2 linked regions of the Homo sapiens genome follow. The protein of the gene in region 1 interacts with the protein of each later gene in a biochemical or structural test. Each region holds a gene or a part of one and is shown in the gene's direction. Other genes may lie near its edges. The genes, in order: PANX1 and CASP3.

What was found.
Region 2: of the proteins of PANX1 (region 1) and CASP3, one has a biochemical effect on the other in vitro, tested with the Homo sapiens proteins (2 studies listed by IntAct).

The regions. Positions count from the first base shown.
Region 1 is NC_000011.10:94,131,613-94,138,902, forward strand, and holds part of PANX1 (pannexin-1), read left to right. Parts: intron 1-7,290. UniProt on the Homo sapiens protein: Ion channel involved in a variety of physiological functions such as blood pressure regulation, apoptotic cell clearance and oogenesis.
Region 2 is NC_000004.12:184,626,944-184,632,485, reverse strand, and holds the end of CASP3 (caspase-3 isoform a preproprotein), read left to right. Parts: intron 1-89; coding exon 90-218; intron 219-545; coding exon 546-721; intron 722-1,328; coding exon 1,329-1,449; intron 1,450-2,984; coding exon 2,985-3,214; 3' UTR 3,215-4,790; downstream 4,791-5,542. UniProt on the Homo sapiens protein: Thiol protease that acts as a major effector caspase involved in the execution phase of apoptosis. Following cleavage and activation by initiator caspases (CASP8, CASP9 and/or CASP10), mediates execution of apoptosis by catalyzing cleavage of many proteins.

The DNA.
Region 1 (7,290 bases):
CAGACTCCCATGTTTTCTGAAGTGTTTTCAGGAGTTCCAGGGGAGGACAGACATGTGGGATGAAGCTAACAGGACCAGGGAAGACCTATTAGATTAGGTATACATTTAGATAAAACCAGAAGAAGGGCTTTTGAGAAGAGGGGAGAGGTACATAGATTAATACATGGAGTTGGTACAGTGGGAGGGATCATGTCATGCAGCATTTAATTTTGTGTAGTTAGTAGTATGCACTCAGCCAAAAACAAACCAAAAAAAAGAACAGCAATAAAGGGAGAATGAAGTAATTGAAATGGAGCTGGCACTTTGCCCACCATATTGGCCAGTGAACTCAGGCCCCGGGAAGACACTGAGATAAGGCCTGCAGACTTAAAACATGGCTTCATCCTTCCTCTGTTGATAATTACTGCTTCCCTCTCTGGTGCTTGGAATACTCTTTTGTTGAACTTAACACAGAGCTTTATAACCTGTCTATGCATGTTTTGCATGGAGATTGAAACTACTCTATAAACATTTGTTGTGAATTAAAGGTGATAGCTTTTGGCATCATCAGACCTTGCTAATTGATTGTTATGTGCATGATGCTGTACCTTGGCAATGGGGTGTCAGACACACGTAGGACATAAGAATCTTTCCTCTGGAAGCACGGTCTAGTAGAGAAGTTGAACGCATAACCCTCCTAATGCAGGATTCATGGAACCTGGGCAGTGTCAGAAGTGTGTACTAAAGCCTGATGCTGTGGAAAGGCAGAAGGAGGGGTTTCTTCTGACTCATGAACAGTGAGAGTTTCAGGGCAGAGTTGGCCCCTGAGGCAGGATTCCAAGTGTGTGGAGCAGTGTTGGCTGAAGCTGAGACGTGTGAGACAACATGTGGCTGCTGGAGCTTTAGTGGCACCGTCACATGGAGAGGTGGGAGCCAAAGTAAGGGTCCAGGGGCTCCACATGAAAGAAGGCATAGCAAATCCCATTGTTTTCCTGTTTGTGTTGGGGGGGTGGTGTGTGTGTGTATAAAATTAGAAACGAGAAAATCAGCTGTAATTACATGTTTTTCCTTTTTCCACCTGTATGATAAACTAGTATATATAAGAATTCATCTCTTTTGATATAAAATCCCCTCAAGCGTAAAATAAATTATATTTTCCAGTTACTTTCCAAAAATTAAATTTTCTGTCAACTGTTGTTTGATAAAATAGGGTTCAAGTTGAAACTTTGTGGCGATTTTTCCTTTAAATAAATGATTTTTTACTTTAAAGAAAATCTATTAAATCAAGAAATGTGCATGGATTGTGCTTTAGATTTAAGAGCAGGTTCTCTGTGGGGGTGGGAGTGTTGTAGGTTAGAGAGAGGGAATGTCCTCATATGATAAAATACTTGGCTTCATATTAAAGGCTTCCGTTTGGTCTTTGGCCTTTTCTCTTAGTAGTTCAGCCCACTGGGCTCCTCTCAGAAAAGAGGGACTGAGCCTGCCTGGGCCACAGAGACCCATGGGCATAGCAGCAGGCTGATCTTTATCAAGCCCTGCTGGGTGCCAGCATGGTGGCTGCAGGTGAAGCGTCCACTCCTCAGAGGTTCTGGCCCCTTCCCTCCCACAGCAGTTCACGCAGGTCCTGCATGGTAGGCACTGGTGTGGGGCTACCTGGGCTGGTGGGGACTGTGTTGGGGACAGAGAGCAGAAGGGACTCTGCCTTGCTCATTCACCAGATCTTGGTCTGGCTGCCCACAATCACAGGTTGAGGGTCACTGCAGAAGTGATGTGGTCTGGAGGGGCATGGCAAGGCTGGTGCCATGGTCAAGGTGGAGGCAACTTTGGTAGTCTTTGCGGCAGCCACTCATTGGTCCAGATGTGCCCTGTGATAGTGAGAATTACAAGCAGAAACCCTCCTGAGGGAGTGGCAAGGAGACTCTTCTGAGTTGTGCCTGGGAGCATTTTGAAGGCTTTTGGACAGTGAGATACTAAGGATTGAATGTAAGAACTAAAATGTGCACCTGTCTGGTTAGGCCTGATACTTCTAGTCAGCCTTTCTAAAATACTGCAGGTGTGCCTCCTCTGAGATTCAGCTGGGTAGGGGGAAAATAAGTGACACACAGCAAAAGACAGTTTAATTGTGAGTTTGGGCTAGAAAGGCTGTGTGGTGGGAGCCAGAGAAGGGAGAATCAGTGGTTTCACCAGCCCTCATTTTTCCTTCCTCTTGTCTTCTACCATGTCTTGCCCTCAACAAGTGCTCCATAGGAATTTAGTGAAGGAAGTGCCAGAGCACACTAGGGAACTCTCCCAGAGTGGCTGTGCTGAGGGAATGGACGGAGTGTTCTGGATAAGGGTCCCAGTTGCTTGGAAGTGCGCCCTCTGAGTGCCATTTAATGATACAAGTGCTGTCCTGGGTCAGGCCTGTCCTGGCCACCTCCCAGACACCTGCCTCTGATGATAGCAGTAAAGGATGCACATCGTCATGATAGGTAAGTTGTCCCACTTGATTTATAAGCTCAGGTTATATTGCGTGTGCCTCAGATTCTTTTTTATGTTATTTTTGTGATGAGGAAGAATCTGTGTTCAGAGTGCAGAATGGTGTACTGTGGAAGAAGGATGAGTGTGATCTGTGTGGCTTGGGTACCCTATGGGTGTCACCTTGTGCAAGCTGCTGGGAGACAGTGCCTTGAGGCCCTTCATTTCTAACACATCTACTCTCAGATGCCTCTAGAAGTGCTGCACATTTCATTGATGGGGGGAGAGGTTTAGGAAATGGCTGGGCGACAGCTTTGTGTAGAATATAAGCATGATTGCATGACGTGACCTTCAAGCTCTGAAATTCTAGAAGTATTTCTCTAAAGTTATGAATTCCCTTAGTGTGCTGCAGTTATGGACTGAATGTTTGTGTCTCCCAACCGCAAAATTCATATGTCGAAGTCCTGATCCCCAATGTGATGCTAATTGGAGATCCCTTTGGGAGGTAATTAGGTTTGGATGAGATTATGAGAGTGGGACCTTCATGATGGGATGCCCTTAGAAAAAGAAGAAATCCCTCTTTCTCTCCCCCCTCCCTCTTCCTCTCCCCCCTCCCTCTTCCTCCTTCTCTCCCTCTTTCCCTCTCTCTCCCACTACCCCCCTTCCTCTCTTCTTCCCTCTTCCTCTCTCCACAAGTGCGGCCACAAGGAAAGGTGTGTGAGCACGCTGGGAGAAGGGGGCCATCTGCAAACTAGGAAAAGAGCTCTCACCAGACACCGAATCTGCTGGTACCTTGATCTTGAACTTCCCAGGCTGTGAGAAAATAACTGTTGTTTAAGCCACCCAGTCTGTGGGATTTTCTTACAGCAGCCTGGTTGAAGACAAAACTATCAACAGACCAGACTCTGAATGGGATTCATGTTTAAGGGGTCTTTTGACAGGGCCTCCTGTGCCCTGCGCTTAGGGCTGTACAAGGCCTGAGGCGTCAGGGGCTGCTTTGATTCCCTGGTGCCTCATGTGGCACATATCCCCTGGGAAGGAGAGCCCGTGTCTCCTGCCAGGATGTTTCTGGCTGGCTGGACCAGGTGGGGAGCTGGGGCAGCCAGTAGTCTACTAGGGAAAGGGTGTCTGGTCAGCCGGGGACCCTGCCTCCCTCACCCACTGACCTCTTAGTGGGCAGCCACCGTTCTGGGTAGAGAAGGACTTAGTCTTTCTGAGTTAGCACTGCTCTTTTGCTATCATTACAGGGCAGGCATTGGGCCAGCCCCAGTGAGTCAAAGGATAGATATAACTGCAGCTGCTTCCAATATAGTTTGCTTGGAGTTCCCCTTTCATTTCCTGCAACTGAGTCAGCGGCTGGGTGGCTTAAGTTATCTGCTCTGTTGTGGCTGAATTTAGACCTGTCTTTGGGAATATCTTCAGGCTGCTTTTTAGCATGTACCAGCTGGCAAAGCAGATCGATTCTTTTCAGGGTTGTCTATCAGAGTGGGCCAATATTTAGGGTCTCATGGCATAGGTCCTATAATAGAACATCTTCAACTCACACTAAACCAAAGAGCCAAGAGAGACTCCTAACCCCTCCAGAAGGATGCATGCTGTCCAGAGAGTCTACTGTTGGATACATGTTTTACTTTGTTAATATTTTTCTTGTACAAGTAGTAGCTAAATACATCATCATGGTAAAGGATTCATAAATCTCTTTCACTATGTGCTGAAGGTAGGTGGACACTTTGTGCAGCCTTATTGCTGTACTTTGTCTGCATTAGCATAACGTGTACACCTTATTTTATTTTTTAAAACAAATCGAGTCATACCATAGTGGCTTGCTTTTTCTCACTTAGTATGTTTGGAGAGCTTTCCGTGCCAGTACATAGGTGTCACCTCACTGTTTTATAATAGAACAGTATTCCATAGCTTAGAATATACTTACAATTCATCTAAGCAGTCCCCTAATGATGGACATTTACTTTCTTTCAAAATTTCTACTCACACATAAAGCTTGTTTGCATGAAAATCTTCGTAAATATTTCTCTCCTCCCAGCATTAAAAGGAAAGGAGACTAGTCGCAGCAGTATCAGTTTCCAGAAGGATGACATCATTTTCCGAATAGTTTTGCATTCCTGCGTTCCTATTTGAAATAAGTGGAAGAAAAAAAAAAACCACTGCCCTGTACACTATCCAGCTCTGACTCCCTCAAAATGTGACTGCATTAGAAGTTTGGAAGAAGCATTTTGATGTGCTCTTGGTTTTAAGAAAGAAAGGGCCTCCTTCAGGGGGTAGAATTGCAACTTTAAGTAGAACTTCATGATACATGTTCTCCTAACACTGTAAGTTTCCTTCCTAACATTTACCATAACTTGAAGTTAGGTAATTACTTGCATACTTATCTGTTGAATACTGTAAGTTCATTTAGGGCAGGGACCATGTGTCCTTAAAACTTGATACATATCGGCCGGGCGCGGTGACTCATGCTTGTAATCCCAGCACTTTGGGAGGCCGACGTGGGCGGATCACGAGGTCAGGAGATCGAGACCACGGTGAAACCCTGTCTCTACTAAAAATACAAAAAATTAGCCAGGTGTGGTGGCGGGCGCCTGTAGTCCCAGCTACTCAGGAGGCTGAGGCAGGAGAATGGCGTGAACCCGGGAGGCGGAGCTTGCAGTGAGCCGAGATCGCGCCACTGCACTCCAGCCTGGGCGACAGAGCGAGACTCCGTCTCAAAAAAAAAGAAAAAAACTTGATACATAGAAGTATTAGGCAGCTCTCACATTGCTATGAAGAAATACCAGAGACTGGGTTATTTTTAAAGAAAAGTTTATGTGGCTCATGGTTTTGTGGGCTGTACAGGAAACCTAGTGGCTTCTGCTTGGCTTCTGGGGAGGCCTCGGGAAACACAGTCATGGCGGAAGGCAAACAGGGAGCAGGCACGTCTTATATGGCAGGAGCAGGAGCAAGAGAGAATGGGGGGAGGTGCTACACATTTCTAGTGGCTCACACCTGTAATCCCAGCACTTTGGGAGGCCAAGGCGAGCGGATCATGAGGTCAAGAGATCGAGACCATCCTGGCCAACGTGATGAAACTCCGTCTCTACTTAAAATACAAAAATTAGCTGGGTGTGGTGGCGCATGCCTGTAGTCCCAGCTACTTGGGAGGCTGAGACAGGAGAATCGCTTGAACGCGGGAGGCAGAGGTTGCAGTGAGCTGAGATCATGCCACTGTACTCCAGCCTGGCGACAGAGCGAGACTCCTTCTCAAAATATATAGACAGATAGATAAAACCTGAAAATAGGCCTTAGGACCTTCATGGACTCTAGGTTTGGATTAGCAACATCCCTTTAAAAAACCATGCAAACACCTTTTTTCTGCAGCTGGTTGCTTTCTTGGATTGCTTCCTTGTCAAACCCCTAACTGAGGCAGCGAGAGCTTGGTCCAAAGTGGAGAAAGGGAGGCAATTTGGGGGCATTTGCCCTGGCTAAGCTAGGAACTCTGGGCGAGGCAGGCCCCGCTGCATGCTGTGGGGTTTCTGGGGGCAGCAGGGAGACATTAGTTACTTGGGGAGAAGGGGGCCTAAAGAGAATCTACCATCTGCTTGGTACCAGGCACACCTAGTTCTGTGGGGGGTGAAAGGGGTGGTGGGGAGGGGACGCTGTTGTTTTTTAATAAATTCTCTATAAAGCTCACACTCCTTTTTAAAATATAAATATTTATATATGTATATTATATCATTATAAAGATAAAACTTACTGTAGAAAATATGGAAAATACAGAAGAGAAAATAGCAGTACATCTATAATACTACCAGGGATAACTACTATTCTTGAAAAACCAAACACTAAGTCAAGGCCATGTTACCATGTTCCTAAATTGTTGTACATGATTTTTTTTGTTGGCAGTGACATGGAATGTTGTGCACGTGTCAAAATTTAACTGTTTCACAAGTTTTGTAATATAAATAGCATTGTGAAGAACACTCCTGTACATAATAAACCACCTCTCTAAAGATCTCAGTATTTCAAGTGATTGTATAATTCTAATTACAAGGTCAAAGTATACATAGACATTTTTAAGATTTGACTGGTGTGGTTGGGTTGCCCTCTGGATAGACCCCCAATGGATACTTCTCCCCGCAGCTGAAGGAGTGGCTTTCCCCACAGCTGGCAAAAGTTAGTGGATTATCGTCCACAGCTTAATAGGTGAACAAAGGTGTGCCATTGTTTTAAGTCGCATTTATTCAGTTACGGCATTGAATGTTTTTTCGTATGTATTTTTTCCATTTATATAATTCTGTGAATTGTCTGTTCTTATCTTTTGCTTATTTTTCCAAGGGGATGTTGGTTTCTCAATGGGTTTTATTAACTATTTCTATGTTTCAAATATTTTCTAGCTAGCCTTTATTGTATTTTCTTTTCCGGTTGTCCGTTTCCTTTGAATTCTGTTTATGTTAAGCATTTTTGTTTTTTAATTTTTAATTTTTGTTGGTATGTAAAGGTATATATTCATGGGGTATGTGAGATATTTTGACACAGGCATACAATGTGTAATAATCACATCAGGAGAAATTGGGTATCCATCTCCTCAAGTATTTATCCTTCGTTACAAACAATCCAGTTGTACTCTTTCAGTTATCTTAAAATGTAAAATTAAATTATTATTGACTACAGTCACTCTATTGTGCCATCAAATACTGGATCTTATTCATTCTATTTTTATGCCCATTAACCATCCCCATTTCCCCTGACAGCCATCCCTCAGTAACCTTTACAGTATAAGTTTTGATAAGCAGAAGTTATTTTAAGTCATCAAAACTACCCATCTTTTAATTATTTCTTCAGTTGCATTATGATTAGACTGTC
Region 2 (5,542 bases), on another chromosome or scaffold:
GACTTCTGAATTGCTGAGTAGTTAATTTCATTTCAAAGTAGTTATTCTTTGTTTTCCATACAATTAAAAGTAATTCTTTCTGTTCCAAGGAATGACATCTCGGTCTGGTACAGATGTCGATGCAGCAAACCTCAGGGAAACATTCAGAAACTTGAAATATGAAGTCAGGAATAAAAATGATCTTACACGTGAAGAAATTGTGGAATTGATGCGTGATGGTAAGAAGAAACAATTAGAATGAACTTCATTGTACAATTAATTTTATACTATGGTCTAGCAATAATTATATGTATAATAAAATATGAGAATTGTGGAATTATACTGTACATAACCCTAATCTTACATACTTTAGTAAGAAGTTTAAAAAAAGTTATTTATGCCAACTTCCTAAAATGGTTTGAGATGTGTTGCCGTGCCCCAGGTTAGGTTAAGATGACCTCTTAGTTTTAGTCTCAGTTTCTTCATCATGTTCCCATACAGTATATCTGAAGTTGTTGAATAAAGTCATGGATTTTTTTTCCTTTTATTTGCAAATGTCTTTACAGTTTCTAAAGAAGATCACAGCAAAAGGAGCAGTTTTGTTTGTGTGCTTCTGAGCCATGGTGAAGAAGGAATAATTTTTGGAACAAATGGACCTGTTGACCTGAAAAAAATAACAAACTTTTTCAGAGGGGATCGTTGTAGAAGTCTAACTGGAAAACCCAAACTTTTCATTATTCAGGTAATGTCTAACTGAGTGATTTGGTTATTGACGATTAAGCAGGGGTTACTATTCTCAACTGTAAATTATCCAAAGGATAATTTTTTTCCTGAAGCTAATGAACTATTGTTACTTTTCATTTATTTACCACTTAAAAGATATAGAGTAAATTTTAATTTTATACTTATATCAAAAAGACTCAGCATAATTAACATCCTTTTTTTTTTTTTTTTTTTTTTTTTTAGACAGAGTCTTGCTCTGTCGCCCAGGCTGGAGTACAGTGGCGCGATCTCCGCTCACTGCAAGCTCTGCCTCCTGGGTTCACGCCATTCTCCTGCCTCAGCCTCCTGAGTAGCTGGGACTACAGGCGCCTGCCACCAGGCCCAGCTAATTTTTAAATTTTTTTTTAATAGAGACAGGGTTTCACCATGTTAGCCAGGATGGTCTCGATCTCCTGACCTCAAGTCATCCGCCCGCCTTGGCCTCCCAAATTGCTGGGATTAAAGGCGTGAGCCACCGCGCCCGGCCAATTAACATCCATTTTTACATAGCATTTCAATTTTTTAGAACTAAGTTATGTGTTCACACACAAATTTTTATAAATAAATATTTATTTTCTAACACCCAGGCCTGCCGTGGTACAGAACTGGACTGTGGCATTGAGACAGACAGTGGTGTTGATGATGACATGGCGTGTCATAAAATACCAGTGGAGGCCGACTTCTTGTATGCATACTCCACAGCACCTGGTGAGAACGTTACACATAATGAATGTTACATGTGGATTTTAAATGAATTAACTGTGACTGATCATAGAATTATACAATGAAAAGTGTGTTTCAGAGACTGTCAAGATTTTGATATCCCTAAAGATATCAAAACTTGTCTATATTTTAGGGAACCTTCATCAAAGAGAAGTCTCAAAAAGTTGTCTTTAGCCAAAAGTTTGGCTAGAAAATATGCATATATAGCCAGGCACAGTGACTCACGCCTGTAATCCTAGCGCTTTGGGAGGCCGAGGCAGGTGGATCACTTGAGGTCAGGAGTTCAAAACCAGCCTGGCCAACCTCATCTCTACTAAAAATACAGAAAAATTAGCTGGGCATGGTGGCACACGCCTGTAATCCCAGCTACTGGGGAGGCTGAGGCAGGAGAATCGCTTGAACCTGGGAAGCAAAGGTTGCAGTGAGCCAAGATCGCACCACTGCACTTCAGCCTGGGCGACAGAGTGAGACTCCGTCTCAAAGGAAAAAAAGAAAAGAAAATATGCATATGTAGAGTAGACTAGCACGATGTCATTCATTGGACTTTATCAGGTAGATCTCCGCTACTAATATCAGGTAGAATATTACGTGGCAACAGAGGCCAAGTCAGAGCTTCCCCTGCATCTTAGAGAAGAAGAGAGGTACGTTTCTCAGGAGTTATTTGAAAGGTAGTAAATAAAAAAGATAAACATGACTAGTATACAAGAGGATAGATGTGGAGTGGGAGAAAAGAAGGTAAAAAACGATACATGAATGTGCCGTTAACCTCCACGTTTTTACTGTTCTGCTGCACACGTCATCATCTAAATAAACATTTGTGGATTATACCACCATTTACTCACACAGCTAAGGGTGTCGGAGAGTTTGGAAACTTTAGGTAAATGTATTCTTAAGCAGTGTTGCATTTTAAAATATGCTCAATATGGTTTATCTTATCCTCTAGGCATCTTTCCAAGCAAAGTACCTCTAAGTTAAAAGCAATGGGTCTAATAGTTAACCTAGAAAAAAAAGTATGATAAATATACTATTTTCCCTTTTTGGACCAATACTTGGTAGTGTGTTTATTATACTTTATTCAGATGCTCTGTAGACAAGTAGGACACTCAAAGCAATTTGTTTCTTGGCTAAGTCAGTATTAAAATAAGGTGAAATCTGATTGGAACACTGTGCTACTTACAATGATCCTTTTTATACATCTTTACTTTTGCATCTTACCTTCTGCGTGTTTGCTCTTCTTGCCTATTGAAAGGGGAGTCCAGAAAGTAAAACTTTCAATAATTCAGTGTTCGTGAAGCTGGTCCCCGGCCAGCTTTGCTGAAAGCAGGGGGTGTACGCATAGCACACATTCGTCCTTCAGCATCATTTCTTCTGAAACCAAAGGTGTCTTTTTTTTTTTATTTGTATGACTAATAAGACTTATGTAAGTTTATGCTTATTTTTGCCTTTATGACTACATAATAATTTATAGAATCAACTAAAATCAGCTATCCATGGTATTTTGCTTGTATTTTGCCTTTTAGGTTATTATTCTTGGCGAAATTCAAAGGATGGCTCCTGGTTCATCCAGTCGCTTTGTGCCATGCTGAAACAGTATGCCGACAAGCTTGAATTTATGCACATTCTTACCCGGGTTAACCGAAAGGTGGCAACAGAATTTGAGTCCTTTTCCTTTGACGCTACTTTTCATGCAAAGAAACAGATTCCATGTATTGTTTCCATGCTCACAAAAGAACTCTATTTTTATCACTAAAGAAATGGTTGGTTGGTGGTTTTTTTTAGTTTGTATGCCAAGTGAGAAGATGGTATATTTGGTACTGTATTTCCCTCTCATTTTGACCTACTCTCATGCTGCAGAGGGTACTTTAAGACATACTCCTTCCATCAAATAGAACCACTATGAAGCTACCTCAAACTTCCAGTCAGGTAGTTGCAATTGAATTAAATTAGGAATAAATAAAAATGGATACTGGTGCAGTCATTATGAGAGGCAATGATTGTTAATTTACAGCTTTCATGATTAGCAAGTTACAGTGATGCTGTGCTATGAATTTTCAAGTAATTGTGAAAAAGTTAAACATTGAAGTAATGAATTTTTATGATATTCCCCCCACTTAAGACTGTGTATTCTAGTTTTGTCAAACTGTAGAAATGATGATGTGGAAGAACTTAGGCATCTGTGGGCATGGTCAAAGGCTCAAACCTTTATTTTAGAATTGATATACACGGATGACTTAACTGCATTTTTAGACCATTTATCTGGGATTATGGTTTTGTGATGTTTGTCCTGAACACTTTTGTTGTAAAAAAATAATAATAATGTTTAATATTGAGAAAGAAACTAATATTTTATGTGAGAGAAAGTGTGAGCAAACTAACTTGACTTTTAAGGCTAAAACTTAACATTCATAGAGGGGTGGAGTTTTAACTGTAAGGTGCTACAATGCCCCTGGATCTACCAGCATAAATATCTTCTGATTTGTCCCTATGCATATCAGTTGAGCTTCATATACCAGCAATATATCTGAAGAGCTATTATATAAAAACCCCAAACTGTTGATTATTAGCCAGGTAATGTGAATAAATTCTATAGGAACATATGAAAATACAACTTAAATAATAAACAGTGGAATATAAGGAAAGCAATAAATGAATGGGCTGAGCTGCCTGTAACTTGAGAGTAGATGGTTTGAGCCTGAGCAGAGACATGACTCAGCCTGTTCCATGAAGGCAGAGCCATGGACCACGCAGGAAGGGCCTACAGCCCATTTCTCCATACGCACTGGTATGTGTGGATGATGCTGCCAGGGCGCCATCGCCAAGTAAGAAAGTGAAGCAAATCAGAAACTTGTGAAGTGGAAATGTTCTAAAGGTGGTGAGGCAATAAAAATCATAGTACTCTTTGTAGCAAAATTCTTAAGTATGTTATTTTCTGTTGAAGTTTACAATCAAAGGAAAATAGTAATGTTTTATACTGTTTACTGAAAGAAAAAGACCTATGAGCACATAGGACTCTAGACGGCATCCAGCCGGAGGCCAGAGCTGAGCCCTCAGCCCGGGAGGCAGGCTCCAGGCCTCAGCAGGTGCGGAGCCGTCACTGCACCAAGTCTCACTGGCTGTCAGTATGACATTTCACGGGAGATTTCTTGTTGCTCAAAAAATGAGCTCGCATTTGTCAATGACAGTTTCTTTTTTCTTACTAGACCTGTAACTTTTGTAAATACACATAGCATGTAATGGTATCTTAAAGTGTGTTTCTATGTGACAATTTTGTACAAATTTGTTATTTTCCATTTTTATTTCAAAATATACATTCAAACTTAAAATTACCAATGTCTTTGAGTTTTTTGTTGCTGTTGTTTTTGATGTTGTGCCACTAATTGGAAGTTAAAATGTTTTTAATCAGAAGCTTGATTTGGAAGAGTCAAAGAGGAAGCACCAGAACCCTAGCCTAGTTTTTTGAGGTGGTGGCAGTTAGATCAGGGCAGACAGATCGCTTATGCTTCCCAAGTCCTCGCAGAAGTTCCTGACCCTGAAATGACCACAATGCCAGGAAGATACTTTGTTTGCATAGATCTCAGGCCTTAAATATGACCATATGTGTGAATTTGAAACTTTTTCCACAAGATAAGTGTCTAATGGGAAGAACAACCTAAGAGGATATACAACAAGCCGTTGATGTTTACTGATGGCCTCCTCTGGGCGCTGGGATTTTGACAGAGGAATTTGCTGTCTTTTTACTTCATATGCTTAGAAAAGGAATATAGGAAAGTGGGGTTGTGGGTGGTTTTAAATTTCTTCCAATATTTCTGTAATGAAAATATATTACTTTTAAATCAGAAACAAAATAAATTGTCCTAACTAGGAAAAGGAGACTTCTGTTTCTGAGGAGTAGAGAGTAGCATAAATGAGTTCTTTAAGGCCATATGAAAGCGGTGGTTCTATAGTGTTGAGGAAAATCTGGCTTATTCTAGTCTCCCTGTTAAGTAAAGAGGTTTCAGATACAAAGGAAAAGACCAGCAACCCAATAGGAAAATGAGCCAAGGACATGAACAAACAGTTCACAGAAAAAAGAAAACCC